Regions from separate parts of the Homo sapiens genome. Here all the other regions are linked to region 2. The links come from fine-mapping of genetic effects on gene expression. A gene starts in region 2. Each other region holds a variant in brackets. All regions are shown on one strand. Distances are from middle to middle. Region 1 overlaps INHBC (inhibin subunit beta C). Region 2 holds the start of MARS1 (methionyl-tRNA synthetase 1). Region 3 overlaps R3HDM2 (R3H domain containing 2).

The links. PIP is the estimated chance that this variant, and not a neighbour inherited with it, causes the effect.
Region 1: its variant is the best candidate, but not a certain one, in a credible set for the expression of MARS1 in whole blood (INTERVAL, PIP 0.82).
Region 3: its variant is the best candidate, but not a certain one, in a credible set for the expression of MARS1 in whole blood (TOPMed, PIP 0.63).

The regions. Positions count from the first base shown.
Region 1 is chr12:57,441,460-57,451,722 of GRCh38, reverse strand. It overlaps INHBC (inhibin subunit beta C), which reads right to left. Exons shown (of 2, transcript NM_005538.4): 2 at 1-2,446. The coding sequence ends at 1,701. Among named protein-coding and RNA genes, the nearest start is that of INHBE, 8.7 kb to the left of the region's middle. The variant TAAAG/G (reference allele first, on the strand shown) is at 5,263.
Region 2 is chr12:57,480,188-57,490,077 of GRCh38, reverse strand. It overlaps MARS1 (methionyl-tRNA synthetase 1), which reads right to left and starts at 2,010. Exons shown (of 21, transcript NM_004990.4): 1 at 1,879-2,010; 2 at 969-1,059; 3 at 733-811; 4 at 520-654; 5 at 107-182. The coding sequence starts at 1,987. It also overlaps a transcript of ARHGAP9 not described here. RefSeq lists enhancers at 1,139-2,085, 1,883-2,272, 2,086-3,033, 9,799-9,888.
Region 3 is chr12:57,330,615-57,340,877 of GRCh38, reverse strand. All of the region lies in intron 2 of R3HDM2 (R3H domain containing 2), which reads left to right. Among named protein-coding and RNA genes, the nearest start is that of STAC3, 85 kb to the right of the region's middle. The variant C/G (reference allele first, on the strand shown) is at 4,317.

The DNA.
Region 1 (10,263 bases), 39 kb after region 2:
TCAGATTTACAGTCCCCCAGGCAGTCCTTTTCAGACTTTCTCCTCTAGGGTTCCTATTTCAGGGACCTCTTACCCTCATAGGAGGGGGTCATAAACTGAGCAAACACAGACATCACGTTTACCAAAGAACACATGGGTTTTGCGCAAACTCGGCCTTGGGCTGCAGACATTATCGACCTCATGGTTCAGGACTGTCCAGCCAAAGGGAGGAGATGTGGGGGAGGACGGGCAAAGGTCTAAAAAGGACCCAGTCTCAGAGCAAATGCCACCCTCTCCTCATCCAGGCCTTCCTCTTCTCCCTGTCCCACTCCAGCAGCCCTTGCCCATTCCAGCTTCCAGGCAGGACTCCTGGGTGGAGCACTGGGGGTGGGTGAAAGGAAGGCAAGTCAGAGGTCCTGGCAGCCAGCTCTGAGCATGCCTCTGCCTCCCACACTTGCGTGCCCACAGCTGGTCAGTTTACTGGATGACCAAGCATAGATCTGTCTCATCTTTTGGAGGGATTACAGAGGGAACAGGTAAAGCCTAGGTTTTTATTAGCCATGAGACCTCAAAGATGGTTCTGGAAGGATGGAGGGACGGGGTGCCTAAGAAAGAAGAGGCATAAAGTGTGAGATGGATACAATAGTTCAGTTCTGAGGAGACCATGTGAAGAGACAGCAGAGTAGGCAGACTACAGCATAAGCAGGCAGGCTCTGTGTCATCTGGGGTGCCAGTTAGGGCCCTTGTAGGAGATAGAGGACTTTTCAGCTGTCTGTTTTTGCTTCATCAAGAGAACTTAGTGAAGGAATTATTTACAGAGGTATAGGCAGAGTTAAGGGAACCAGTATGAGATGTTGAGGCCCCAGGGACTAGCAAGATAGAAAGCCTTTAGGACCCCCTAGTGTTGAAGCAGTTATATCAGAATGTAGGCAGAGCTGGGGCCATGGAAGGGGGTAGCCAGGTAGTGTAGGGACACAGAATAGCCACAGTTACACAGAACCATGACACCTAGACAGAGAGGGAACAGGGATAAGAAATGCCCTGACCTCAGCAGGAAGCCAGAGGGCAGGGGAGCTCAGGTGATAGAGCTCAGGCAAGTCAGCCCTTAAGGGCATAGAGAAAGGCAGAGAAGGACAAAAAATGGATGAAGGTATGCAAAGAGAGCTTTAGTAGTTCACCTGGACAACTAAGAAGGACAGGGGCTCACAACAAAGAGGGGGGTAGGTAAGCCTCTATTTTGGGCAGCAGTGATCTAAACTTTGGTGAATCCAAAGAAGGGCCTCTCTGGAGATCCACAAAAATTGGGGGAAGGGGTTGTGTCAACTCATCTTGGAGTGGGGACCATTGAGTAGAAAGGACAGGAAGGCATAGTGGGTTATGGGGTCTATTAAAGGTGAGCTAAGGGTGTCTTTGCCTGGGAACCAGATGGCATTGCTCATGGTTGGAGATGGGTCTGAGTCCCTGGAGTGGGGCTAGCGGGATGGACTAGCGGGATGGACTATGCCCTAGGAAAGAGGGTAGTGGTCAGGAAGATGGCACAGTGACTTGCTTTAGATGAAGGTTTCTTCAAGTCAAAGGTGGGGTAATTTCCATAAGATGCTCAGGAAGAGGGAGTCCACATTCTGGACAGAGAATGAGGTCATTCCCTCCTCTCAAGGAAGTGCACTTCTGTAGGGGCGTGTTTTCCCATGCAACCTTGGGCTGCCCATACCACACATAGACTAACTGCACCCACAGGCCTCTACTACCATGTCAGGTATGTCAGTCTTGACAATGTTGCTGTCCCTGTCATAATAGAGCAGAGACAGGGGGCGCCGGGCCGTGGGTACACAGCATGAGCCCCCTCCAGTGGTGCCTGCAGCTGTGTTGGCCTTGAGAAGATTGAGCACTGCAGTGTGAAAGGAGGCAGCAATACCAGGCATGCCTGCTATGTGTAGTGGGCACTGCCCTATGCAGAAGTTCATGGCGTAGCCCTCAGGCTGGATGATCCAGTCGTGCCAGCCAATCTCACGGAAGTCCACAAAAAACTCTTGTCGACAGCACATCCTGGACCCTCCTTGGCAGTCGATGCCTCGTCGGTGAATCTGGTGTTTGCCCCCAACTCTCACCCGGGCTGCCACAAAAGGCCTATGGGCAGCTCCACCCAGGATGACTGAGCTCTGGGCTACCTGGCCTTCAAGTACCAGCTCCAGGGTCAGGTGCCCCTGGCTGCAGGCAGCTTGAGCTTCAGGCCCTAGGGGGAGTTGATGCCAGCCACTGGCATCCACCTCCAGCAGGTACTGAGTAGCCAAGGTGAGGTTGGTATTATGTGGACCCAGCACAAGGACTCTCACTTTCAAGGTCCAAGTGGTATTGGAAGGGAGCTGCACAAAGAACATGAGACTGGCCTGCTGGACCTCCCTGTCACCAGCAGTTCTATCAGAGGAGAAGTGAAAATCAAGACGAGTCTGGTTGATGGTGGAGAGGCCTGTGGACATAAGAAGCCCCAGTCATTGCGGCCTTCTGACTGTCAGTTCTACCAACTATTTCTCTGTACTCAGCATTCTTGAGTTGTCTATAGCACTTGGCATTTGCTACAGTTTAAACATGTCCTCCAAAGTTCATGTGCTGGAAATTGGACCTCCAATGCAGTGGTGTTGGGAAGTGGGGCCTAATGGGAGGTGTTTGGGTCATGGGAATACCACCTTCATGAATGGATTAATGCCCTTATCTTGGGAATGGGTACCTTATAAAAGGATAAGTTTAATTATCAGCCCCACCCTCTCTTTGCCCTTCTGCCATGGAATAACACAGCAAGAAGCAAGAAGGCCCTCGCCAGATGCCAGCCCCTTGATCTTGGACTTCCCAGCCACCAGAACCATGAGTTAATATATTTCTGCTCATTATAAATGACCTAGTCTGTGGTATTCTGTTACACCAGCACAAAACGGACTAAGACAGCACTGCTGACAATTCTTTCCTTCCTGAAAATCTTTTCTCTCTTGGCTTCCATGACACAACTCTGTTATAATTCTTCCTGGTTTTCTTTGCTGGCTTTTCTTTCTCTGACCATCCCTTTAATATCAGAGTTTTCCAAGGTCTGTCTTGGACTTTCATTTCCTTCTAGTCTACATTAAGGGAGCTCTTAATTAGACTCATGGTCAAGCAACATAATTTTTTTTTTTTTTTTTTTTTTTAGACGGAGTCTCATTCTGTCACCTAGGCTGGAGTGCAGTGGCGTGAGGTTGGCTCACTGCAACCTCTGCCTCCTGGGTTCAAGTGATTCTTCTGCCTCAGCCTCCTGAATAGCTGGGATTACAGGTGCCTGCCACCACTCCCAGTTAATTTTTGTATTTTTAGTAGAGATGGGGTTTCACCATGTTGGCCAGGCTGGTCTTGAACTCCTGACCTTGTGATCCACTCACCTCAGTCTCCCAAAGTGCTGGGATTACAGGCGTGAGCCACCACGCCCAGCCAAGCAACACAATTTTTATGTTGGTGATTCCCAAATCTGTATGCCCAGACCAGAGCATTTTGCATATTTGGACCGGACATATAGATTTGGAAATCACCAAGCTTCAGGCCTAGATTTCTAACTACTTACTTTTGTCACATGAATGTCCTGGCAGCACATTAAAATCAATTTGTCCCAGAGCTGGGTGGAGTAGTGCATGCCTGTAATCCCAGCTACTTGGGAGACTGAGGCAACATGCCCAAGACCAGCCCAGGCAACATGGCAAGACCCCATCTTATAAATACATATGTGTGTATGCATGTGTGTATATATATGTATATATGTATGCATACATATATACAAACACAAGCACACACACATATATTTTATATATATATATATATATATATATATATATTTTTTTTTTTTTTTTTTTTTTTTTTTTTTTGAGACGGAGTTTTGTTCCTGTTGCCCAGGCTGGAGTGCAATGGCGCAATCTCAGCTCACTGCAACCGCTGCCTCTCGGGTTCAAGCAATTCTCCTGCCTCAGCCTCCCAAGTAGCTGCACCCAGCTAATTTTGTATTTTTAGTAGAGACAGGGTTTCTCCATGTTGGTCAGGCTGGTCTTGAACTCCTCACCTCAAGTGATTCGCCCTGCTTAGCCTCCCAAAGCGCTGGGATTACAGGCGTAAGCCACCGCGCCTGGCCTATATATTTTTTTTAATCAATTTTTTCAACCTGAAAAATAATTACTTTCCTTCCTATATACCCCCTCTTCATTCTTGGTGGTGCCACTACCCTCATCACCTGTAAAAACTCTATGATCAGCTAGGCGTGGTGGCTCACGTCTGTAATCCCAGCACTTTGGGAGGCTGAGGCAGGTGGATCACCTTAGGTCAGGAGTTTGAGACAAGCCTGGCCAACATGGTGAAACCCCATCTCTACTAAAAATACAAAAATCAGCCAGGCGTGGCAGTGGGCGCCTGTAATCCCAGCTACTTGGGAGGCTGAGGCAGGAGAATCGCTTGAACTTGGGAGGCAGAGGTTGCAATGAGCCAAGACCACACCATTGCACTCCATCCTGAGAGACAGAGCGAGGCTCCGCCTCAAAAAAAGAAAAAAAAAACAAACTATGATTACTTTCTTCATTCCCCCTATACCTTGTCTCACCAGAATGGTTCTAATGTCTGTGCATTTCTTTGTATCCCTATTACTACTGCCCAATTTCCTCTTATCATCCCTCACCTTCCTTACTGAACATCTTAGTTGGGTTTCTATTCCCTCCACTCTACTGAAATTGCACACGTCAAGATCACCAACACCTTCCACAAAGCAAATCTAACCATTTGTATTCATCTTACTTGACCTTTAAGCAGTGTTTGACACAGTTAACCACTCCCTCCTTCTTCCATATTTTCTTCTCTTGGCTTTTATAACAGTGGCCACTCTATCTTTTTCTCCTCTATCGACAGCTCCTCTTTGTCGGCCCAACCTTTAAATGTTGGAAGTCAGGCCAGGCGTGGTGGCTCACACTTGTCCCAGAACTTTGGGAGACTGAGGTGGATGCATGGCTTGAGTCCAGGAGTTTGAGATCAGTGAGATCAGCCTGGACAACTTGGCAAAACCCTGTCTCTACAAAAATTACAAAATTACCCAGGCGTACTAGTGTACACCTGTAGTCCCAGCTACTACGGAGGGCTAAGGTGGAAGGATTGCTTGACCCTGGGAGATCAAGGCTATAGTGAGACATCAACGCACCACTGCACTCCAGGCTGGGCAACAAAATGAGACCCTGTCTCAAATAAATAAATAAATAAATAAATAAATAAATAAATAAATAAATAAATAAA[TAAAG/G]TCCTAAGCTCCCTTCTCTTCACTATCTATACCCTCTCCCAGAATGATCATCCATTCCATGGCTTTCAATTCCATCTATATGCTGATGACTTCCAAATATATATATCTGGTCCTGACCTCTCCCTGAGCCCCAGCCTTGTATGTCCAAGTGGCTATCTGATATTTGACTTGGACATCCAATGATATTTCAATCTCTTTTTTTAATTAAAAAAAAATTTTTAGGCCGGGTGTGGTGGCTCACGCCTGTAATCCCAGCACTTTGGGAGGCAGAGGCAGGTGGATCAGTTGAGGTCAGGAGTTCGAGACCAACCTGGCCAACATGGTGAAACCCTGTCTCTACTAAAATTACAAAAAATCAGCCAGGCATGTTGGCACATGCCTGTAATCCCAGCTACTCGGGAGGCTGAGGCAGGAGAATTGCTTGAACCCAGGAGACAGAGGTTGCAGTGAGCTGACATCGCGCCACTGCACTCCACCCTGGGCAACACAGCGAGACTCTGTCTCAAAAAAACGAACAAACAAACAAACAAAAAAACCACCAAAAATTAGCCAGGCATGCTGCGGGCACCTGTAATCCCAGCTACTTGGGAGGCTGAGGCAGGAGAATCACTTGAACCTGCGAGGCAGAGGTTGCAGTGAGCCGAGATCATGCCATTGCATTGCACTCTAGCCTGGATGACAGAGCGAGATTCTGTCTCCAAAAAAAAAAAAAAAAAAAAATTTACATGGAGATGGGCGGGGGGTCTCACTATGTTACCCAGACTGGTCTTGAACTCCTGGCCTTAAGTGATCCTCTCACCTTGGCCTCCCAAAGTGCTGAGATCACAGGCATAAGTCAATGTGCCCAGCCTCAATCCTGTACAAGGAAGTCTAAATGTATCCCCCCAGTCCAAACCTGTTCCTTCTCCAAACTTCTCCCCATAAACGCATTGCTTAAGGCAAAATCTTGATTGTGTTTATCCTCTACTTTGAAATTATCTGAAAGTTTTATCAACTCTACTTCTAATTCATAATATAATTTCACTTCTCCCCACTTCCTCTACTACTCATTAGTCCAACTCACAACCATCTTTTTCTTTAACTGTAGCTTTCGTTCACTCAAGTGATTCACTCTTGCTCTCCAAACCATTCTCCAAATATCAGCCAGTGATCTTTTTATAAATCTGATTAGTTTTATCTTCTCAGCTTAAAACACTTCAAAGTCTTCCCCTTGCTCTTTGGATAAAATCTAAACTCCTTGAAATAGGAAACTTGTTTGACACTTAACTACTACACCCTGCCTATACTGGCCTTTTTCTGTTCCTCAAATTCACCAAACATAAAGCTATCTCATAGCCTTTACACTTGCTAGTCTCTTTCCCTGGAATGTCTTTCCAAGATCTTTGAATGACTGAGTTCTTTTTGGCATTCGGCTCAGATGTCTCCTCCTCAGAGAGGCTTCAGGCTTCCTTCCTAATCTATCTAAAGCAGGCTTCAGCCAGGCGTGGTGGCACATGCCTGTAATCGCAGCACTATGGGAGGTCAAGGTGGCAGGATTGCTTGAGGCCAGGAGTTTGAGACCGACTGGGCAACATAGTGAGACCCTGTCTCTACAATAACTAAAAAATATATAAATAAATAAAAAATAGCTGGGCATGGAGGAACACATCTGTAATCCCAGCTACTCGGGAGAATCACTTGAGCCCAGGAGGTCAAAGCTGCAATGAGCCAAGATCATGCCACTGCACTCTAGCCTGGGCAACAGAGCAAGGCTGTCTCAAAAATGAAATAAAATAGAATAAAACGTAATAAAATAAAATAAAATAAAAATAGCCTTCAATTCTGCCTCCATCTCTCTAATACATCATCCTGCTTAACTGTTTGTATAGCCATTATCATGCTCTGTAATCAGTGTGGTTCTTTTTTTTTTTTTTTCTGAGACAGAGTCTTGCTCTGTCACCCAGGCTAGATTGCAGTGGTACGATCTTGGCTCACTGCAACCTCCACCTACCCGGTTCAAGCAATTCTCCTGCCTCAGCCTCCTGAGTAGCTGGGATTACAGGCATGCACCACCATGCCCTGCTAATTTTTGTATTTTTAGTAGAGACGGAGTTTTGCCATGTTGGCCAGGCCGCTCCGGAACTCCTGACCTTGTGATCCTCCTACCTCGGCCTCCCAAAGTGCTGGGATTACAGGCATGAGCCACCAAGTCCGGTCCAGTGTGGTTCTTCGTTCATTTGTTTACTACGTATTTCTCCTACCCCTCTTTCTTCCCTGCAGCTAGAATGTAAGCTCCATGAAAACAGCGGTTGTGCCTGTATGGCTCACCATTGTATCCCTAGTACTTGGTATTTAGTAAGCACTCAATAAACACTTGTTGAGACCAGGTGTGGTGGCTCACACCTGTAATCCCTGCACTTTGGGAGGCTGAGATGGGAGGATCACCTGAGGTCATGAGGTCATGAATTCGAGATCAGCCTGGCCAACAGGGTGAAACCCCATTTCTACTAAACATACAAAAATTAGCCGAGTGTGGTGGCATGCACCTGTAGTCCCAGCTACTCAGGAGGCTGAGGCAGGAGAATTGCTTGAACTCAGGAGGCAAAGGTTGCAGTGAGCAGAGATCACGCCACTGCACTCCAGCCTGGGTGACAGAGCCAGACTCTGTCTCAAAAACAAACAAACAAACAAACAAAATACTTGTTGAATGGTCTTTCATTTCTATAATTATTTTAACATCAGGATTCTTTTCCCAAAACATGGATGGATCATAAAATTCATGGTCTCAAAAACCTTATTAGTTAATAAAGTCCTAACTCTTTTAGGAAACAGTTAAATACCCATTGTAATTTGGCCTTAGCCATTTTTTTTTTTAAGTGAAAAATGTTTTATGAGGCCCGGCGCAGTGGCTCATGCCTGTAATCCCAGCACTTTGGGAGGCCAAGGTGGGTGGATCACCTGAGGTCAGGAGTTCGAGACAAGCCTGACCAACATGGAGAAACCCCATCTCTACTAAAAATACAAAATTAGCCGGGCGTGGTGGCGCATGCCTGTAATCCCAGCTACTCGGGAGGCTGAGGCAGGAGAATTGCTTGAACCTGGGAGTCGGAGGTTGCGGTGAGCTGAGATCATGCCATTGCACTCCAGCCTGGGCAACAAGAGTGAAACTCTGTCTTAAAAAAAGAAAAAAAAATTAGCTGGGCATGGTGGCACGCCCCTGTAGTCCCAGCTACTCAGGAGGCTGAGGCAGGAGAATCACTTGAACCCAGGAGGCAGAGGTTGCAGTGAGCCGAGGTCGCACCACTGCACTCCAGCATGGCAACAGAGCAAGACTCCGTCTCAAAAAAAAAAAAAAAAAAAAAAAGAGTGCTTTATTATGGGAATGGAACTGATACTCTCATGGGCTCAAAAAGGCGGGGTATGAAGTTCAACTAGGCTTCATGTAAATTGGAAAGTCAGGAATAAGGTTCTTTTTTTTTTTTTTTTGAGACGGAGTCTCACTCTTGTCGCCTGGGCTGGAGCGCAGTGGCGCAATCTCGGCTCACTGCAACCTCAGCCTCCTGGATTCAAGCAATTCTCCTGCCTCTGCCTCCCGAGTAGCTGGGATTAGAGGCACCTGCCACCATGCCCAGCTAATTTTTGTATTTTTAGTAGAGACAGGGTTTCCCCCATGTTGGCCAGGCTGGTCTTGAACTCCTGACCTTAGGTGACCCGCCCACCTCAACCTCCCAAAGTGCTGGGATTACAGGTGTGAGCCAACGTGCCCAACAGGAACAAGGCTGCTCTTGACAGCTCTCAGAGCCAATAAGATCTCTTTCATCTCTCTCTCTAGATAAGTCAGTTCCACTCTTCTCTCTCTGTGGATCTACTACTTCTGCCTCCTTGTTAGCTTCCTCAGGTCCCAAAATTGTGGCCCAGGTCCCAAGTCTATAGGACCTTTTGCTCAGCTCCTCCTAAGTGAGCAGATCTTCCAGTGTCCCAATTCCAAAATCCTAAAAGAGTCTGACTGGCCCAACTAATCTTTTCCTTGCTAGGTCACAAAGCACCCTATAGTTAGTACCTTTTAAGTCACTCCAGTTATGGCAGGCAAACACAAGACCAACAGGGGCTGTAGTAGACTATTACACTGTTGGCCCCAAAGGCCAACACCTCCCAGTATTCATGACTTTGTGCTGTCCCTTTCCATATTAATTCTGGGCTTAGCCATGTGACTTGATTTGGGCAGTGAGACATTAGCAAGCATGGTGTTTATTGAGTACTTACATATTGAGGCATTCCACTCTTGGAAGCCAGCCGCAGTGCTTTAAAGGAAGTTGAGCTAGACTACTAAATTAGGAGAAGTCATGTGGAGAGAGACTTTGGAGGATTAGAGACCATCTTATATGTTCCAGTCCCATCTGAGTCCCCAAATGAAGTTGCATGGGAGACCTCAGCTACACCACATGGAGCAGAAGAACTGTCCAGATAAGCACAGTCAAGCCACAAAACCATGAGAGTGGCTGGGGGCAATGGCTCATGCTTGTAATCCCAGCACTTTGGGAGGCTGAGGTGGGTGGATCACTTGAAGTCAGGAGTTCAAGACCAGCCTGTCCAACATGGTGAAACCCTGTCTCTACTAAAAATACAAAAAAAGCCAGGCATGGTGGCGGGCACCTATAATCCCAACTACTCAGGAGGCTGAGGGAAGAGAATCTCTTGAACCCTGGAGATGGAGGTTGCAGTGACCCAAGACTGTGCCACTGCACTCCAGCCTGGGCAACAGAGTGAGACTCCATCTAAAAAAAAAAAAAAAGAATCATGAGAAATAATGAATGTGTTGTTTTAAGCCTCTATGTTTTGGGCTGGTTTGTTATATTGATAAGTAACTGAAACAAAAATTAGTATCAGAAGTGGGGTGCTACCATCACAAAAACCTAAAATATGTTGCATTGACTTTTTTTTTTTTTTTTTTTGAGACGGAGTTTTGATCTTATTGCCCAGGCTGAAGTGCAATGACGTGATCTTGGCTCACTGCAACC
Region 2 (9,890 bases):
TTGCCCAGTCAAGCTGTACCTTGAAGGGAGTTCTCAGTATTCTACTGCCCATTCTGTAACCCCTACACCAAGCTCCTAGGGTTGGAGTGATATGCACAGTTCTCACCAGGGAGGTAGGCGGGATCTTGCAGTAATGGGTATAGGGCTCCCCACAAAACAATGTCGGCTAGAGATTCTGTCTCCTTTGTTGGGGATAGAAAAGGAAAATGTACACAAATGAGACACTCAGTTTCTTCCCAATGGTAATATCTAACATTTACTGAGCACTTTATATGTCAAGCACTGTATTAAGCACTTTATATGATCTCACTTAATCCTCACAATAACTCACTGAGATAGGTACTAATATTATCCCATTTCACAACTGAAAAAAATTGAGGATTAGAGAGATTAAGTGATTTGCCAAGATTACACTACTAGTAAGTGGCAGTGTTGGGTTCGAACACTCTGAATACAGTCTTCCCTCTTAATCCTTACACCATAAGCCTTCCCCAGTCCTCATCTCAAGACCCAACTCACCCCAGCCAGGAAAGGACAGTTCTGACGACTCAAGCTGTGGTCAATGTGAGTCAGGGCTCTCCGCACTGAACCAAGAACATCTTCCCCCTTCTTGCCTTGGACCACTAAATAGTACAGGGCAGCAGACAAAGCTGGCTAAAATGCAGGGGACATGAGTCAGGATGGCCACGCAGAACAAGGGCCTGCCTGACATCCCCCATACCTTAGTCCTACCTGCAGCTCTGTCGCTTCCCATTCCAGCCACTGGTTAGTGAGGTCATCTTGCTCCCAGCCAGATAACAAAAAAAAATATCTGCCCAGAGAGAGAGCAACAGATGATGGACTTAGAGGGGCCCATTTAGCCCATTTCTCATCACACAGGGAAACAATGGCTGCAAATAAAGCCACACAAATGACAGTGAGGCCTGATTTGATTCAGCCACCTCCCTACACCAAGGACCAATACTGACCGGCAGATTGCACTAGTGGAGAAGAGGTAGTTGCCGCTATCCAGCTGCAAGACAGGGACCTTAGGCCGGGTCAGGAACGGGACCACACAATCTGATGCAAGAATGGAAAATGGGTTAAAAAAAAAAAAGGAAAAGAAAAGAAATACTTTGTCAACTTAGGATAACCTTGCATTGTTCAGTGAGTAAAAAAAGAAAGATGGGCAGTCTCAACCCAGAAGTTCCAGGATAGGACCACTGAAAGGGGGTGGTCCGGAATGGGCTGGAGAGGCCAGCAGGTGTTCAGCTGAAACTGCCAGCTGGAAGCAACAGATGGGGACTGCAGAGGAGGTGGTGGTATTGGGATAGTGCTGCAGCCAAGAACTTAACGACTGAAAGTAACTGGGATATCTTCATAATTATCTGAAGGTCACAGTGGGAGAACAAAATTAAAAGAACTGAGAAGACTTACAAGAGAACCTCCTAAGAGTCACCCAAACAATCGGCTGAGAATGAGAAGAGGTAAACAGAAAGGAACGTGTGTGTGTGTTAGGAGGGGAGAGAGGGATTTCCTAAGAACACAAAAGGGTGCCTGGGGGCTGTCATGCTAGTAACTAAAGAGCAGAGGGGGATGCCTGATAGGTGTAGGAGAAGGTTGGGAAGGGAAGAGCAGTTTACTGGGGTGAGGCGGGGACCGGGAAGACGGAAGAGGGGAGGAGAGAGATAAGGGAAGGGTATTATATTGAGGGTAATTAAAGGAAGTGAAAGATGTGACTGGGAGGGAAGAAGGCGTGGAGTGATCAAGGATAATAGGAGAAGTGGTCGATTGGGGTGTGTGGCGAGGGCTAGGGGTTTGGCAAAGACAGCTGCAGAGAATCTGGCGTGTTTCGGTCCCGCCCCCCCATCCACCGCCCACCAGCACCAGCACGAGTACCTTCCGGGCCTACAGTGCTGATGAGCACCTCTGCTCTGCCCCGGGCTCTCCCGGCGGCGGCCAGCACCGGCAAGCAACCCGGGACGCCATCACTCACGAACAGTCTCATTTCGCCGTGAATCCCTCGCTGATGCAACCGGAACCGGCCTCCCGCTTCTGAGTTCAGCGGCCTCCGCGAGGCACGCCGGGAAATGGAGTTCCGTATTAGGCCACTGCCCTGGCACCGCTACCGGAAAGTAGACTATTTCTCCCATCATGCAACGCTAAGACACAGGAAAAGACTATCATCGAGATGAAGAGGCCGCAGATGCGGGCTAGACTGCACTTTTTTTTTTTTTTTTTTTTTTTTGTGAGAGGGCGTCTCCCTCTGTCACCTGGGCTGAAGTGCAGTGGCACGGTCTTGGCTCGCTGCAACCTCTGCCTCCAGGGTTCAAGTGATTCTCCGGCCTCAGCCTCCCATGCAGCTGGGACTACAGGCACGTGCCACCACGCTCGGCTAATTTTTGTATTTTTAGTAGAGGCGGGCTTTGACCATTTTGGCTAGGCTGGTCTCGAAGTCCTCACCTCAGATGATCCGCCCGCCTCGGCCTGCCAAAGTGCTAGGATTACAGGCGTGAGCCACTGCGCCCGGCCTAGAGCAGCACTTTTTTTCTGGAGATCCAGAAGAGACGTTTAGGTTTTAGGGCAAGTCGCACTTTTATCCTCTTACGCTGCTGGAGGGCGGTGACTGAAGCCGCGGCTGCTTCTCTTGTTGTGGAGAATGAAATGGCCATGTCATAACAGCAGCTACTCGCAGTGGCTCTCGATGCAAGCTCTTAACGGTCAGAGTTTTAGAGTTCGGAGTTACCATGTGCGGAATTAGTGACAAAGTGGAAGTTAGTGTACATATCCATCCTATCAACAACAACAACAAAAATGTACATAGGCCGGGCGCGGTGGCTTATGCATGTAATCCAGCACTTTGGGGAGTCGAGGCGGGCGGATCACCTGAGGTCAGCAGTTCGAGACCAGCCTGGCCAACATGCTGAAACCCCGTCTCTACTAAAAATACAAAATTAGCTGGGCATGGTGGCAGGCGCCTGTAATCCCAGCTACCCGGGAGACTGAGGCAAAAAAAATCGCCTGAACCCGGGAAGCGGAGGTTGCAGTGAGCCGAGACCGCGCCATTGCACTCCAGCCTGGGCAACAAGAGGAAACTCCGTCTCGAAAAAAAAGAATGTAGACAAGTAAAATATTAATACCAGTCTGAGTTCATATACAGCTCGACGTCTCATCAAAGGGGTAGAAGAGCATCTCTTTTTTTTTTTTTTCTTTGAGACGGAGTCTTGCTCTGCCCCCCAGTCTGGACTGCAGTGGCGCGATCTCGGCTCACTGCAACCTCCGTCCCCCGGGGTTCACGCCATTCTCCTGCCTCAGCCTCCCGAGTAGCTGGAACTACAGGTGCCCGCCACCACGCTCGGCTAATTTTTTGTATTTTTAGTAGAGACGGGGTTTCACCGTGTTAGCCAGGATGGTCTCGATCCCCCGACCTCGTGATCCGCCCGCCTCAGCCTCCCAAAGTGCTGGGATTACAGGCGTGCAGCCGCGCCCGGCCAAACATCTCTAGGGAAAAGATGAAATTGAGAAGTAAGGCCGGGCGCGGTGGCTCACGCCTGTAACCCCAGCACGTTGGGAGGCCGAGGCGAGCAGATGACTTGAGGTCAGGAGTTTGGGACCAGCCTGGCCAACGTGGTGAAACCCCTTCTTTAGTGAAAATACAAAAATTAGCTGGGTGTGGTGGTGCACGCCTGTCATCCCAGCTACTCAGGAGGCTGAGCCAGGAGAATCACTTGAACCCAGGAGGCAGAGGTTGCAGTGAGCCGAGATCGTGCCTCTACACTCCAGCCTGCACAATAGAGCAAGACTTCGTCTCAAAAAAAAAAAAATTGAGATTCAAGATGGCTAAGAGTTTGGCAATAAGTATATATTATGCAAGGAAGCACATACCTGTTATTGAGAAAGGGACGCTTCTTATTCATCTTTATATTATTTTAAGAATAATTAATATCTAATAGTACTTATGAGCTAGGCACTGTTTTAAGCACTTTATATTTGATCTCAGAAAATTCTATGGAGGTTCTGGGCCTTTTGAAGCTAGGCCATAAGAAGTTTTGCAGCTTCAGTTGCAGGCTATCTAGCACACTGGTAGCTTTGAGCTGCCATGTAAGAAATCCTACCACTTTGAGCTGCCATGCTAGAGAGGTCTCATGTAGATATTCTGTCTGACAACTCCAGCTAATCCCAGCATTCCAGTCATCCTTACCAAGGTGCCAGACTTGTGAGTGAAGCCTTCCAGACCAGCCCATCTGCCCACTGAAAACTCTTAAGTAACCCTTGGTAGGGTCTCAAGGCCACATGAGATAGAAGAATCACCCACCTAAGGCCTACCCAAATTTCTGCTCCATACCTATACAATTGTTAAACTATAATAAAATGGCTGTTGTTACATTAACAACAACAAAACAAACAAACAAAAAACTAGGCCAGGCCCAGTAACTTATGCCTGTAATCCCTGTGCTTTGGGCAGCTGGATCACTTGAGCCCAGGAATTCAAGACTGCCTGGCCAACATAAAAAAAATAGTTTTTTTGTTTTTTTTTTTTTTCAGATGGAGTCTTACTCTTATTGCCCAGGCTGGAGTGCAATGGTGTGGTCTTGGCTCACTGCAACCTCCGCCTCCTGGGTTCAAGCGATTCTCCTGCCTCAGCCTCCCTAGTAGCCGGGATTACAGACACCTGCCACCATGCCCGGCTAATTTTTGTATTTTTAGTAAAGACGGGGTTTCATCATGTTGGCCAGGCTGGTCTCAAACTCCTGAACTCAGGTGATACACCTGCCTTGGCCTCCCAAAGCGCTGGGATTACAGGCATGAGCCACTGCTCCTGGCCAAAAATAGTTTTTAAAACTAGCCAAGAGGCTGGGCGTGGTGGTTCATGCCTGTAATCCTAGCACTTTGGGAGGCCGAGGTGGACAAATCACCTGAGGTCAGGAGTTCGAAACCAACCTGGCCAACATGATGAAACCCAGTCTCTACTAAAAATACAAAAAATTGGCGGGGTGTGGTGGTGCATGCCTGTAATCCCAGCTACTTAGGATGCTGAGGCAGGAGAATCACTTGAACCCGGGAGGCAGAGGTTGCAGTGAGCTGAGATCGTGCCATTGCACTCCAGCCTGGACGACAGAGCCAGACTCTGTCTCAAAAAAAATAAATAAATACGCTGGGCGCAGTGGCTCACACCTATAATCCTAGCACTTTGGGAGGCCGAGGCAGGCGGATCACCTGAGGTCAGGAGTTCGAGACCATCCTGGCCAACATAGTGAAACCCTGTCTCTACTAAAAAATACAAAAATTAGCTGGGCATGGTGGCGCATGCCTGTAATCCCAGCTACTTGGGAGGCTGAGGCAGGAGAATTGCTTGAACTTGGGAGGCAGAGGTTGCAGTGAGCCGGGATCGCACCACTGTACTCCAGGCTGGCAACAGAACGAGACTCTGTCTAAAATAAATAAACAAACAAACTGAGGTAGGTCTCTCATCGCCATTTTACTAATGAGGGAACTGAGGCATAAAGTTATGACTTTATGCCAGAAATCACTGTAGAAGTGACTGTAGAAGGCATTGAAGGTACAGTTATCAACAAAATGGATGTGGGCTTCTGCTACCTTGGCAGCACTCACAGACTTCCTGAAAGTCAGAAAATCAAATAATCCTTAAAGTGTGATTAAAGTTATGATAGAGGAGGCAAAGCCTGCCATCGTACCTCCTAGTTAGGGCCCCTCTAATGGGTGAAAAGATGCTTTTTTTTTTTTTTGAGACAGAGTCTCACACTGTCGCCCAGGCTGGAGTGCAATGGCGCAATCTTGGCTCACTGCAACCTCCACCTCCCGGGTTCAAGCGATTCTCCTGCCTCAGCCTCCCAAGTAGCTGGGATTACAGGCGCCCACCACCATGCCCAGCTAATTTTTTGTATTTTTAGTAGAGACAGGGTTTCACCATGTTGGCCAGGCTGATCTCGAACTCCTGACCTTGTGATTCGCCTGCTTCGGCTTCCCAAAGCGCTGGGATTACAGGTGTGAGCCACCGCACCCGGCCTTATTTTTTTTTTTTTTTTTTTTTTTTTTTGAGACAGGGTCTTGCTCTGTCACCTAGGCTGGAGTGCAGTGGCATGATCTCAGCTCAGTGCAATCTCTGCCTCCCAGGTTCAAGTGATTCTTGTGCCTCAGGCTCCCAAGTAGCTGGGACTACAGTAGCTGGGCCAGCACACCCAGGTAAGTTTTGTATTTTTAGTAGGGATGGGGTTTTACCATGTTGCCCAGGCTGGTCTCAAACTCCTGACCTCAAGTGATCCACCCGCCTCAGCCTCCCAAGGTGTTGGGTTTACAGGTGTGAGCCATCACGCCTGGCTGAGATGCTTTCCTGTGCATGTAATCTTTCAGCTGAGATCTCAGTGATGCGTAAGAGTTATCTAGGTGAAGACTGGAGGGAGTGGAGAAGGGACGTGTTTCAGGCAAAGGAAACAACATATGCAAAGAATCTAAGATTTCAGTGCACTTTAAGAATGTGAGGAATTCGCATAAGACTGCAGTGTGGAGTTTGTGGTGGAGACTGTGAAAAGTGTAGAGAGGGAATCTGTAAATGACATTATAAAATGTGGAAAGTCTAAGTCAGGAGAGTAGCAGGGCATATGTGTTTTAGAAAGGTCACTCTGGCTGCTGTGTCAGGAATGGTTGGAAGGGGAGCAGAACTATATGCAATGAGAACTATATGCAATGAGACTAGTTAGGAAATTATATCATCCAGGCTAAAGGAGTGGTAGTTGTGGGGATAAAAAGTAGGTAGATTGGGAAAATATAAATTGAAGTGTTCAGTAATCAATTGAATCAATGTGGGTGGCGAGGAAACAAGATAAATTCAGGTTGGCTGCTAGGTTTCTGGCATGGGAAATAGGGCATACTTTCTATGTGCTACAACAGATGATAGTATTTCCTCTATCATAGTGATCATTATTACATCATATTTTCATTGTTATGAGTGGGCAGGGATCATATTTTTTTGTTTTGTTTTAAGACAGAGTCTCGCTCCGTCACCCAGGCTGGAGCGCAGTGGCATGATCTTAGCTCACTGCAACCTCCGTCTCCTGGGTTCAAGCAATTCTCCTACCCCAGCCTCCCAAGTAGCTGGGAGTACAGACACCTGCCGCCATGCCCAGCTGATTTTTGTATTTTTATTAGAGATGGGGGTTTCACCACATTGGCCAGGCTGGTCTTGAACTCCTGACCTCAGGTGATCTGCCTGCCTCAGCCTCCCAAAGTGCTGGGATTGAGCTGGATGTGAGCCACTGCACCCGGCCCCATATTTACCATCTTAATTGACAATGCCTAGCACATAGTTCCTGCCCGGCATATATGGTAGTAAACATTCAATAAATATTTATTAAATTATTTTATTTATTTATTTTGAGACAGGGTCTCACTCTGTCGCCTAGGCTGGAGTGCAGTAGCACTATCACGCATCACTGCAGCCTCAACTTCCCAGGTTCAATAGATACTCCCACCTCAGCCTCCCGAGCAGCTGGGACTACAAGGCACACACTGCCATACCTGGCTAACTAAAAAAAATTTTTGGCCAGGCGCGGTGGCTCACGCCTGTAATCCCAGGACTTTGGGAGGCCGAGGCGGGTGGATCACGAGGTCAGGAGACCGAGACCATCCTGGCTAACACAGTGAAACCCCGTCTGTATTAAAAATACAAAAAATTAGCTGGACATGGTGGCGGGCACCTGTAGTCCCAGCTGCTCAGGAGAATGAGGCAGGAGAATGGCATGAACCTGGGAGGCGGAGGTTGCAGTGAGCCGAGATCACGCCACTGCACTCCAGTCTGGGCGACAGAGCAAGACTCCGACTCAAAAAAAAAAAAAATTTTTTTTGTAGAGGCAGGATCTCACTATGTTGCACCTCAAGCTCCTAGGCTCAAGTGATATTCTGCCTTGGCCTCCCAAAGTGCTGGGATTATAGGTGTGAGCTACTGTACCAGGCCAATATTTATTGATTTCATATTAAACTAAATAGTGGTATTGGGAGAGAAACAGGTTTGTGATAAGTTCAGTTTGGTTCATACTGAGTTTGTCGTACCTGTGAAATACTCAAGTGGATTTTCTGGTGGACAGTGGATTAGATGGGAGCCCCAGAGAAAGATCTGGACTTGAGATACAGTCCTTAGCAGCACATGGAAATCATTTGAGCTGGGGAGAGAATAAGACCACCCAGGGAGGGTATGCAGAAAGCACAGGGCACAGGATCTCAGATAGGCTTCTGTGGTTTAAGGAACAGGCAGAGGAAGGTCATTTCTCATGCCACAGACAAGGAACTGCCAGAAAGGTAAGAGGGATACCAGCAGAGTGTTTGTAGGAGAGAAAGGTCAATTGTGTTGCCTGCTACTGAGATGTCAAGCAACATAAGGATTGCATAAGGACTGCAGGATGCTCAGGCAAGGTCGGGGGTGACTCTATTGAGGAGTGACTTTGAAAAGGTGGCGGAGTGAGGGGACAGGAAATGGAGATCCCCTCTACAGTGTAGGCAACTCAAGAAGTTCGACTGTAAAAAGAAAGAGAGAGGCTGGACTCGGTGGCTTACGCCTGTAATCCCAGCACTTTGGGAGGCTGAGGTGGGCAGATCACGAGGTCAGGAGTTCGAGACCAGCCTGGCCAACATAGTGAAACCCTGTCTGTACTAAAAATACAAAAAAAAATAGCGGGCATAGTGGCAGGCGCCTCTAATCCCAGCTACTTAGGAGGCTGAGGCAGGAGAATCACTTAAACCTGGAAAGCGGAGGTTGCAGTGAGCAGAGATTGTGCCACCGCACTCCAGCCCAGGCAACAGTGCAAGACTCTGTCTCAAAAAAAAAAGAGAAGAAGAAAGAGAGAGAGACATATATATGGTGGTACCTGGAAAGCCCAGTAAGGGGAGGTTTGTCTAAAGATGGGAGAGACTTGGATATGTTTAAAAGTGAATGCGACGAAGCTAACAAAAACAAGCTAAAGTATAGGAGAGAGAGTTTCAGAGAAGGCAAAAAAAGGGTGGATTCAAGCACTGAACACCAAATGAATAAATAAGTGAATAAATGGGTGAAATTAGTCACTATTTTGGAAGTGGGAAGGAAGAGTTGAGGGGTAGGATTCTCCATGTGTTGAAGTGAAGTAAACTAGGAAGATCACTGAGGCAGAAGCCCAGTACTAGCCACCCAGCCCTCAGGGGAAGAGAGCTGGCTCTCTGATATCACCAGTGGGGAGGGTCATTCGCTCCTTAACCCACCTCTCCAAACCCAAACAGAAAGCCTCACATTGTGCAGTGGAGAAGCTGAGAGAAGAGGAAAAGAGGAGTGGCCAGGTAAGGCAGAAGCAGAAGTGTGGGTTTTAAAGTGCTGGTAATCCAGGGAAGGTCACTTCCCACCTTCCACCAAGGAGAAGCTGGCATCAGTCCCCTATCTACCTGTCATAGCGTCTTGCATTACTTGTCCATTGTTCCTGATTCAATTGTAATTATTAAGTTTATTGTGTCATTAGTTAAGGTCTGTCTCTCCTTAAGCTCCAAAAGGGCTCATTCCCTTCTCTCATCTCCAGTGCCTGACACTGCTCCTTGCACGCAGGAGGCACTCAATCAATCCTTGATAAAAGCATAAATGAGGCCGGGCGCAGTGGCTCACACCTGTAATCCCAGCACTTTGGGAGGCTGAGGCGGGTGAATCACCTGAGGTCAGGAGTTCTAGACCAGCCTGGCCAACATGGTGAAACCCTGTCTCTACTAAAAATAAAAAAACTAGCCAGGTGTGGTGACAGGCACCTGTAATCCCAGCTACTCGGGGGACTGAGACAGGAGAATCACTTGAACCCGGGGGGCGGAAGTTGCAGTGACCCGAGATCTCGCCATCACACTCCAGCCTGGGGGACAAGAACGAGACTTCGTCTCAAAAAAAAAAA
Region 3 (10,263 bases), 150 kb after region 2:
AGTCGCTTTTCATGCAATTCCATTTTAATACCGCTGATTTCTAGAGGGCTGCAGAGGTCAGTTTGAAAAACTCAGTAAACTAGAGCCTAGGAAAATTAAGGGTTTACCTATCTGTCAATGTGTGTTTAGGTAACATATGTGGAAAAGTACCTTTAAAAATATGCTGGTTTATTTTCTGTCTTTATTTTCTCTTCTGTTCTGTGCTTTCATTTACTCTGAATTCTTTGTGTGAAGTGAAAAGAGTAATAATGTCTGCTTCTCAGCTTACATTAGGTATTCTTATTTTTCTATGATAGTTCAATTATATTAATATTTATTACAGCCATAAATGTTTCAGACCAACACAATCTATTTTTGGGGGGTGGGGTGTGGTAGGAGGAGAAAAAGGAAGATAATCCTAGGGCAAATGGAGAGAATTCTAGAAGAATAACCTATTTAGATGTTTGCCAGAGACAGGAGCTATAAGGGTTAAGGGAAATTCCACCACATCCTTGCATCTTGATATTGCAGCAAATTTGTGGATAATTTCTTGCTAGCTTTTCAGGAAACCCCTGTGGTGGACAACCCTCATTAATCGTTGCTGGGAGACTGCTCTGACGTCACTGGGAGCAGTTCCCTGTCTGCAACTAGGACAGGAATAGCCTTTGAGGGGGAAGAAAACTGCTGTGAAATTAAAAGATGACGGTTTTGTTTACTTGGTTTTCCTTTCATTTGAGGGTAGATAAGATAGACCTAAAGTCTTTCTTAAATGTTTGTCATTACCAAGGGAAAAATTGCCAAAAGTTCTTTTTATTTCAACTGGGAGTGCCTTCTTTTGAAATCTTTTATTTTCTAACCATCAAGGTTTTGGAAGAGGTCAAGGAAAAAGAAAAGCTATTGAAAGATGTTAGAGAAGTAAGATTTCTGTTTCTTTTTATCCCCTTTTCTCCCTACTTTTTTTGTTTTTTGTTTTTGGAAGAAGGAAAGATCAAGAACAACTTTTATAAATGGTTGTTTTTAGCATCACCCCGTTTGGGATAATTAAAAATGTGATATATATGTTGGAAGGACACTACTGTGCCTAAAAGTTACTATACCTACTTAATTCTCTTCTCTCTGATATCTTCCTCTCCTAGCCCACTCCCTTAACAGCTCTCACTGTTAACAGCTTCTCCTTCTCTCTCTCTCTTTTTTTTTTTTTTAGATGGAGTCTTTCTCTGTCACCCAGGCTGGACTGCAGTGGCATGATCTTGGCTCACTGCAACTTCCACCTCCCGGGTTCAAGCAGTTCTCCTGCCTCAGCCTCCCAAGTAGCTGGCATTACAGGTGCATGCCACCACATCCAGCTAATTTTTGTATTTTTAGTACAGATGGGGTTTCACCATGTTGGCCAGGTTGGTCTTGAACTTCTGACCTCGTGATCCACCCACCGGCCTCCCAAAGTGCTGGAATTACAGTCATGAGCCACCACATCTGCCAAGAGCTTCTCTTTAGAAAAAACTTACTGGTTGAATGCTTGCCCCCTGGAATTCAAATCCCAGCTTTGCCAATTGCTGCTCTGTGACCTTGGCCAAATTATTTAACGTCTCCATTTGTAAAATGGGTCAGACGTAGTGGCTTACACCTGTAATCCCAGCACCTTGGGAGGCTGAGGCGGATGGATCACTTGAGGTCAGGAGTTTGAGACCAGCCTGGCCAACATGGTGAAACCCAGTCTCTACTAAAACTACAAAAAAATTTAGCCGGGTATGGTGGCGAACACCTGTAATCCCAGCTACTGGGCAGAGGTTGCAGTGAACCGAGATCACACCTCTGCACTCCAGCCTGGGCAACGGAGCAAGACTCTGCCTTTTAAAAAGACACACACATGCACACACATTTGTAAAACGAAGACAATAATTAGTACCCACTTCCTAGGGTTGTTTTGAGGATTAAAAGAGTTAATATATACATAATAAATCTTTTAAGACAGTTCCTGGTCATTTAAAGACTTAGCATTAGCCATTATTATTAATATTTAGAAATAGAGTCCAGCCCAGGTGGCAGAATGAGACCCTATCTCTCTCTCTCTCTCTCCCTTTGAAAAAAAAAAAATGGCAGGGGGATGTACTATTTGTGTCTTCAGATCACATGTAATTTTTGAGGAAGCCATAAGAGATTTTCAAGCCATGTACGAGATTGAGTTTTTAAAATGAACATCAGGACCAGGCATTGTGGCTCACACTTGTAAGCCCAGCATGTTACTTTGGGAGGCCAGGGTGGGTGGATCACTTGAGGTCTGGGGTTCGAGACCAGCCTGGGCTATATGGTGAAACCTCGTCTCTACCAAAAATGCAAATAAATTAGCTGGGCGTGGTGGCTCACGCCTGTAGTCCCAGTTACTCGGGAGGCTGAGGCAGGAGGATCACTTGAACATATCCAACCAATATGGATACAAATTCTGTACTAATATGGAAACAAAGTTTAGAAAGAGATATCTCAAAACATCATGTTGTTAATAGCAGTTATCTCTGAGTTGTTGATCATGGGTATTTTTGTTTGTTTGTTTTCTTCTCTATAATTGTGCGTGTTGTTTTTGTTTTTGTTTTTGTTTTTGAGATGGAGCTTTGCTCTTGTTGCCCAGACTGGAGTGCAATGGTGCGATCTTGGCTCACCGCAACCTCTGCCTCCCGGGTTCAAGCAATTCTCCTGCCTCAGCCTTCTGAGTAGCTGGGAGTACAGGCATGCGCCACCATGCCCGGATAATTTTGTATTTTTAGTAGAGACAGGGTTTCTCCATGTTGGTCAGGCTGGTCTTGAACTCCTGACCTCAGGTGATCCGCCCATCTCAGCCTCACAAAGAGCTGAGATTACAGGCGTGAGCCACTGCACCCGGCCATGCGTGTTTTTTCTAAGTATAAAGAAACCTGCAGTACTTTTCTAATCATAAAAATTAAAAAATATAAAAATTTCTAGTGTTCATATCTGACAGATGAAAATTTTTAGCATTTGTTAAATTCAAATAATTGTGATGACCTGTATAACCTGGACATAGTGTTTGGAATACAGTAAATGATAGCTGCTGCTATTATTAGTTGAGAAAGATAGCTTCCTATGATTCGAGTCTGGGGCTTTCATATTGGGAGGTAACATCTCTGAGAAGATACCCTCTTCATGCACCTTCTTGTCCTTCTGAGATTAATAAATATGCTCTCTTTCTATATCTGCTAACCCAAGATCTTTACACACATACACAAGGTTATAGAACTAGAGTGCAATGTTTCGGGTTTTTTTGTTTGTTTTTTGTTTTTGCTGATGGTATAGAGGAAATTTAACGTGCAGATAGGCCTACTAGTGACTTTCTTTGCAGTGACTTAAAAAAATGCTTTAATACAATTTATGACTCCCACTGAAAGTTGCTTCTACCCCATTTTCTGAGTTGTTGCCTTAAGAATTCTTGGGAAATTTGGGCTGGGCACGGTGGCTCATACCTGCAATCCCAGCACTTTGGGAGGCCAAGATAGGCAGATCCCTTGAGCCCGAGTTCGAAACCAGCCTAGGCAAGATAGGGAGATCCAGACTCTACAAAAGAACAAAAAAAATTCAGCCAAGTGTATGGCCCTGTAGGCTCAGCTAATTGGAAGGCTGAGGCAGGAGGTCACTTGAGCCCATGAGATTGGGGCCACAGTGAGCTGAGATAGCACCACTATACTCCATCCAACCTGGGCAACAGAGCGAGACCCTGTCTCAAAACAACAACAACAACAACAACAACAACAAAAAGAGAGAAAGAGAATTCTTGGGAAATTTGAAATAGCATTCCAGAAAAGATTTTCTCAGGTTTAGGAATTTCTGAAATTCTGTCTATTGCTTCTCACGTTAGTCTGCTGTGTGGGTCCCTTGGAACTCAAGTGCTAACACATGAGATCTAGACTTTTTTACAAATAATTTTCAAAAATTTATTTGAAAAATTACTTTTCAACTTCAAGAATCTACTTATAAGTAAAGCATGGAAGACAATTTTGTAATGTAAACATTAGCATTGCCTAGCTCTAGAAACCTTTGTTCTATTCCATAGCCTCTTTTTTTTTTTTTTTAAACTTTTATTTTAGGTTTGGGGGTATATATGATGGTTTGTTACACAGGTAAACATGTATCACAGGGGTTTGTTATACATATTATTTTGCCACCAGTGTTAAGCCCAGTACCCAATAGTTATCTTTTCTGGTCCTCTCCCTCCTGTCACCCTCCCCGCTCATGTAGACCCCAGTGTGTATTGTTTTCTTCTTTGTGTCCACAAGTTCTTATCATTTAGCTCCCACTTATAAGTGATAACATGCGGTATTTGGTTTTCTGTT[C/G]CTGCCTTAGTTTGCTAAGGATAATAGCCTTGAGCTTCATCCCTGTTCCTGCAAAAGACATTATCTCATTCTTTTTTATGGCTGCATAGTATTCCATGGTGTATGTACCACATTTTCTTTATCCAGTCTGTCATTGATGGGCATTTAGGTTGATTAAACCTAAATCGACCACGTCTTTGCTATTCTGAATAGTGTTGCAGTGAACATTCATGTGAATGTGTCTTTATGTTGGTAGAATGATTTATATTCCTCTAGGTATAAACTCAGTAATGGGATTGCTGGGTTGAATGGTAGTTCTGCTTTTAGCTCTTTGAGGAACCATCATACTGCTTTCCATAATGATTGAACAATTTACACTCCCATCAATAGTGTATAAGTGTTTCCTTTTCACTGTAACCTCACCAGCATCTGTTATTTTTTGACTTTTTAATAATAGCCATTCTGACTGGTGTGAGGTATGAAATTAAAAAAAAAAAACCCACAATGAGATACCATTAGATACTATGGTATGGTATCTCATTGTGGGTGTTTTTGATTGGCATTTCTCTAATTATCAGTGAGATTGAGCTTTTTTTCCATATGCTTGTTGTCTGCATGTATGTCTTCTTTTGAGAAGTGTCTGTTCATATCCTTTTCCCACTTTTTAATGGGGTTGTTTGTTTTTCTCTTGTACATTTAAGTTCCTTATGGATGATGGAACTCATAGGCTCAAGCCATCCTCCTGCTTCAGCTTCCCAAATTGCTGGGTTTGCAACGGTGAGCCACCATGCCTGGCTAACACCTATAATCTCAACACTTTGGGAGGCCGACATGGGAAGATCTTGTGAGGCCAGGAGTTCAAGGCCAGCCTGGGCAACCTAATAAGAACCTGTCCCTACCAAAAAAAAAAAAAAAAAGTTAGCTGGGTATGGTGGCACCTGCCTGTAGTCCCAGCTATTTGGGAGGCTGAGGCAGGAGGATTGGTTGAGCCCAGGAGTTCAAAGTTGCAGCAAGCTGTGACTAGGCCACTGCACTCCAGCATGGGCAACATAGCAAGATGCTGTCACTTAAAAAAAAAAAAAAAAAAAAAGGTGGCCGGGCGTGATGGCTCACGCCTGTAATCCCAGCACTTTGGGAGGCTGAGGTCAGGAGTTTGAGGCCAGCCTGGCCAACATGGTGAAACCCCGTGTCTACTAAAAATACAAAAATTAGCCAGGTGTGGTGGCAGGCGTCTGTAGTCCCAGCTACTTGGGAGGCTAAGGCAGGAGAATCACTTGAACCCAGGAGGCAGAGGTTGCAGTGAGTTGAGATTATGCCATTGCACTCCAGCCTGGGTGACAGAGCAAGACTCTGTGTCAAAAAAATAAAAAGTATGGGAGATTGACACAGATCAGCAGTACTAAATTATATATATGAAAAAATATATGTTATATATTTTGTAGTGACCGAGTCTTGCTCTGTTGCCCAGGCTGGAGTGCAATGGCCCAATCATAGCTCACTATAGCCTCAACCTCCTGGGCTCAAGGGATCCTCCTGCTATAGCCTCTCAAGTAGCTGGGACTACACAGAGGTACCACTACACCCAGCTAACTTTTTTTTTTTTTTTTGGTAGAGGTGGGGTCTCACTATGTTGCCCAGGCTGCTCTCAAACTGCTAGCCTCAGGTGACACTCCTGCTTTGGCCTCTCAAAGTGCTGGGATTACAGACATGAGCCACGACACCTGGCCAGCAGTCCTAAACTAAAGTCTTTAGCTCTCCGTATATTGAGGCATGGGAAGTTTAAATATTGTGATTTAGCTGAACACTGATTCCTCACTGATTCCTCAATATATCCCTACACTGATTCCTCAATATATCCTGGTGTTGGTTTTCCAGCAGTTTAAAGATTCTTGAATTTCTTTACTGAAATTCAACAAGGAAAAATCTCCAGGGTTTTTGGGATCCCTTGTTATTTGCATAGATTGATTGTCTTTGCTATTCACTCCTTGCCCCATTCATTTTTAGTATAACAGAATGGCAGCATTTCTTATTTGTCTGTATAGACTATTCTCTGACAGTTTTTGCAGCAGTTTCTATGGAAAATGCTTTATTTCAAAAAAAAAAAGGCAAGGGAAATCTCATCTTGAGGCTCTTAGTGATAGAGCCTGTTGCCATGGAGTCTTGGATCAGATTGGCTGACCCAGGGGCCAATGAACAGATAGAACATAAACACATTATCATTTAACTTTGCAGAATTTATTATTCGATAATAGGTGACATTAACACCCTAACTGTATATAGAAACTGTGAAATAAAATGTTTCAAAAATGGTGTAAGGTGTTTTTTAAATTTGCTGTTAAATATAAATTTGATAATTGCATATTCTTAATGTGATTTGATTGGGGGAGGATATGGTGGGAAATACCTACCACCTATCTGTGAATTGAGCTGCTACTGCAGCCAGTTGGGCTTGTGCTAAGTCTAAGTCTAACTATGACCTTCTGGACTAGAGGAGGTTTTTTTTATATATGTGAAGCTGCCTTTCTTTCTTTTTCTTTTTTTTTTTTGAGACGGAGTCTCGCTCTGTCCCAGGCTGGAGTGCAGTGGCGCAGTCTCGGCTCGTTGCAGCCTCTGCCTCCTGGGTTCAAGCTCTTCTGCCTCAGCCTCCCAAGTAGTTGGGATTACAGGCACGTGCCACCACGCCCGGCTAATTTTTTGTATTTTTAGTAGAGATGGGGTTTCGCCACGTTAGCCAGGCTGGTCTCGAACTCCTAACCTCGTCATCCACCCGCCTCAGCCTCCAAAAGTGCTGGGATTACAGGCATGAGCCACCACATCCAGTGCCCTTCCTTTCTTCCTTCCTTCCTCCCTCCTTCCCTCTAGAAATATTTATTTATGTATTTATTTATTTATTTTGAGATGGAGTTTCGCTCTTGTCACCCAGGCTGCAGTGGCGCAATCTCAGCCCACTGCAACCTCTGCCTCCCAGATTCAAGCAATTCTCCTGCCTCAGCCTTCAAAGTAGCTGGGATTACAGGCGCCTGCCACCATGCCTGGCTAATTTTTTTGTATTTTTAGTAGAGACGGGGTTTCACCATGTTGGCCAGGCTGGTCTCAAACTCCTGACATTAGGTGATCCACCCACTTTGTCCTCCCAAAGTGTTGGGATTACAGGCATGAGCCACTGTGCCTGGCCTGAAGCTGCCTTTCTTATTTTGATAGCTTTTAAATCTGCATCGGAAATTATTAGCTTTTTTCTTCCATGTTTTTCTTTTTTTTCTACTCCAATCTGACATGGTAGATCCCTGTCAACATTATATAGTTGTCTCTCTCTTTGGTCTGGAGATAGAGGAATAGCTGGGGGTAGCTTCCATGTTTTCCATCTTTACTTCTCTAGCTTGTTTGTATATATTGACTTAGGTCTGGGATATTTCACTGAGCTCAGTGTTGGTTCCTTGTCATAGCAGATCATGGCATGTTCCTTTTCCTATTTTAATGCCCAAGAGAATAAGAATGATTCATTCATAGAAATTTCCCTCTCTAGATCTTGTAAATGAAAGAAGTCAAGAGTTTTGCGTTTCCCTTCTTACACTTTATGTCAAGGGATACTTGAGAAATTATGGTGGGTCTTATTCTTTGCTCTCCCAGTGTTCTCATACTTAGGTATTTACAGAGCTAAAGGATTGAAAGCGATATCCAAAGGCCCATGAGTTTATTCCTTTCTTTTGAGCTACTCAGCTCTCTGTAAGATATGAATCATTATATCATCACCTCCATCTCAGGAAAAACCAATTTTAGATTCTCTATTAAGCAAAGAGGGACAAAAAGTGTGTTCAGTATCTGACTGGATAACTCACCTTAGGGTAAGAATAAGGAATGTGGTTTGGTTCATTGGATAAGCACAAAGCAGGAGGAAAAAAGTATCACGTTAGATTCACAGGTTATAAGCTTGAATCTCAGTTCACACAGTTTTTTAGATCTTGCAGATCTTTTCTTGCTAAGCTTTATTTTGAATGAGAAACACTGATCTCTTAGGTGAAAATTTGGGAAAGCCATCCTGATCTGAATTTGGGAAAGCAGCAGACCGTTTTGAGAAAACAGTGTGATATCAAAGAAAGAACATGAATTTGGAGGCATTCTTGAGTTGAATTCTAGCTTTGCCACCTACTTTTTTTTTTTTTTTTTTTTTTTTTGAGACAGGGTCTCACTCCAGGCTGGAGTGCTGGAGTGATGCAGTCACAGCTCACTGTAGCCTTGACCTCCCAGGCTCAAGCGATCCTCTTACCTCAGCCTCCCAAGTAGCTGGGACTACAGGTGTGTGTCACCACACCTGGTTTATTTTTTTATTTTTATTTTTGTAGAGACAGGGTTCCACTATGTTGCTCAGGCTGGTCTCAAAATCCTAGGCTCAAGCAATCCTCCCACCTCAGCCTTCCAAAGTTCTGGGATTACAGGCATGGATCATCATACCTGGCCACTGTTTACATTCTATTAATATGGCAAATTACTTTTTTCTTTTCAAGACAGGGTCTTGCTCTGTGGTCCAGGCTGGAATCCAATGGTACAATCACAGCTCACCATAGCCTCCTGGGCTCAAATGATCCTGCTACCTCACCCTTTCAAGTATCTGGGACTACAGGTACATGCCACCATGCCTAGCTAATTAAAAAAAAAAATTTTTTTTTTTTTTTAGACAGAGTCTTGCTCTGTCACCCACACTGTAGTACAGTGGCGTGATCTTGGCTCACTGCAAGCTCCGCGTCCCGGGTTCATGTCATTCTCCTGCCTCAGCCTCCCAAGTAGCTGGTACTACAGGCGCCTGCCACCACGCCCGGCTAATTTTTTGTATTTTTAGCGGAGACGGGGTTTCACCGTGTTAGCCAGGATGGTCTTGATCTCCTGACCTCATGACCCACCCACCTCGGCCTCCCAAAGTGCTGGGATTACAGGCGTGAGCCATAAAAAAATTTTACAGAGACAGAGTTTCCCTATATTGCCCAGCCTGCAAATTACTTTAATTCACTTATTTAAAATATACTTATTATATGCCAGGCACTATTCTAGACCCTGTTTATAAGCAGCGAGCAAAGCAAAATCAAAATCCCTGCCCTCTTTGAGTGTACCTTGGGGACAGAGAGATAATAAACAAGATAAATAGTAAAATAAATTGATAGTTTGACAATGATAAACGACGAGAAAAATAAAGTCAAGGAAATGGTATAGGAGGTATTTGGGGTTTTGTAAGAGATAGGGTCAAAGAACAAACACTGGTGGTCAGGTCATTTAAGGTCTTGTAGATCATTTTAGGGACATCTGCTCTGAGTGAGATGGAGACCCATTGGGGGATTTTGAGCAAAGATGTAAAATGACCTAACAACGTTTTTACACAATCATTGTGGCTGCTGTTTACAAAATACTATGGTAGGGGTGAAAGTGGAAGTAAAGAGACCAATTAGAGGGATGTTGCAGTCATTCCGCCAAGAGAGGATGGTGGAATGACAAGGCAAGAAAAAGAAAGAAAAGGCATCAAAATTAGAAGGGAAAAAGTAAAATTATCTCTATTTGCAGACGATGGGATCTTAGATATAGAAAACCCTAAAGATTCCGGCCGGGCACGGTGGCTCACGCCTGTAATCCCAGCACTTTGGGAGGCCGAGGCGGGCAGATCACAAGGTCAGGAGATCGAGACCATCTGGCTAACATGGTGAAACCCCTTCTCTACTAAAAATACAAAAAAATTAGCAGGGCGTGGTGGCGGGTGCCTGTAGTCCCAGCTACTTGGGAGGCTGAGGCAGGAGAATGGCGTGAACCCGGGAGGCGGAGCTTGCAGTGAGCTGAGATTGCGCCACTGCACTCCAGCCTGGGCAACAGAACGAGACTCCGTCTCAAAAAAAAAAAAAAAAAAAAAAGAAAAGCCCTAAAGATGCCACAAAAAATCACTTTAGAATTAATAAATGCCAGCCAGGCACGGTGGCTCACACTTGTAATC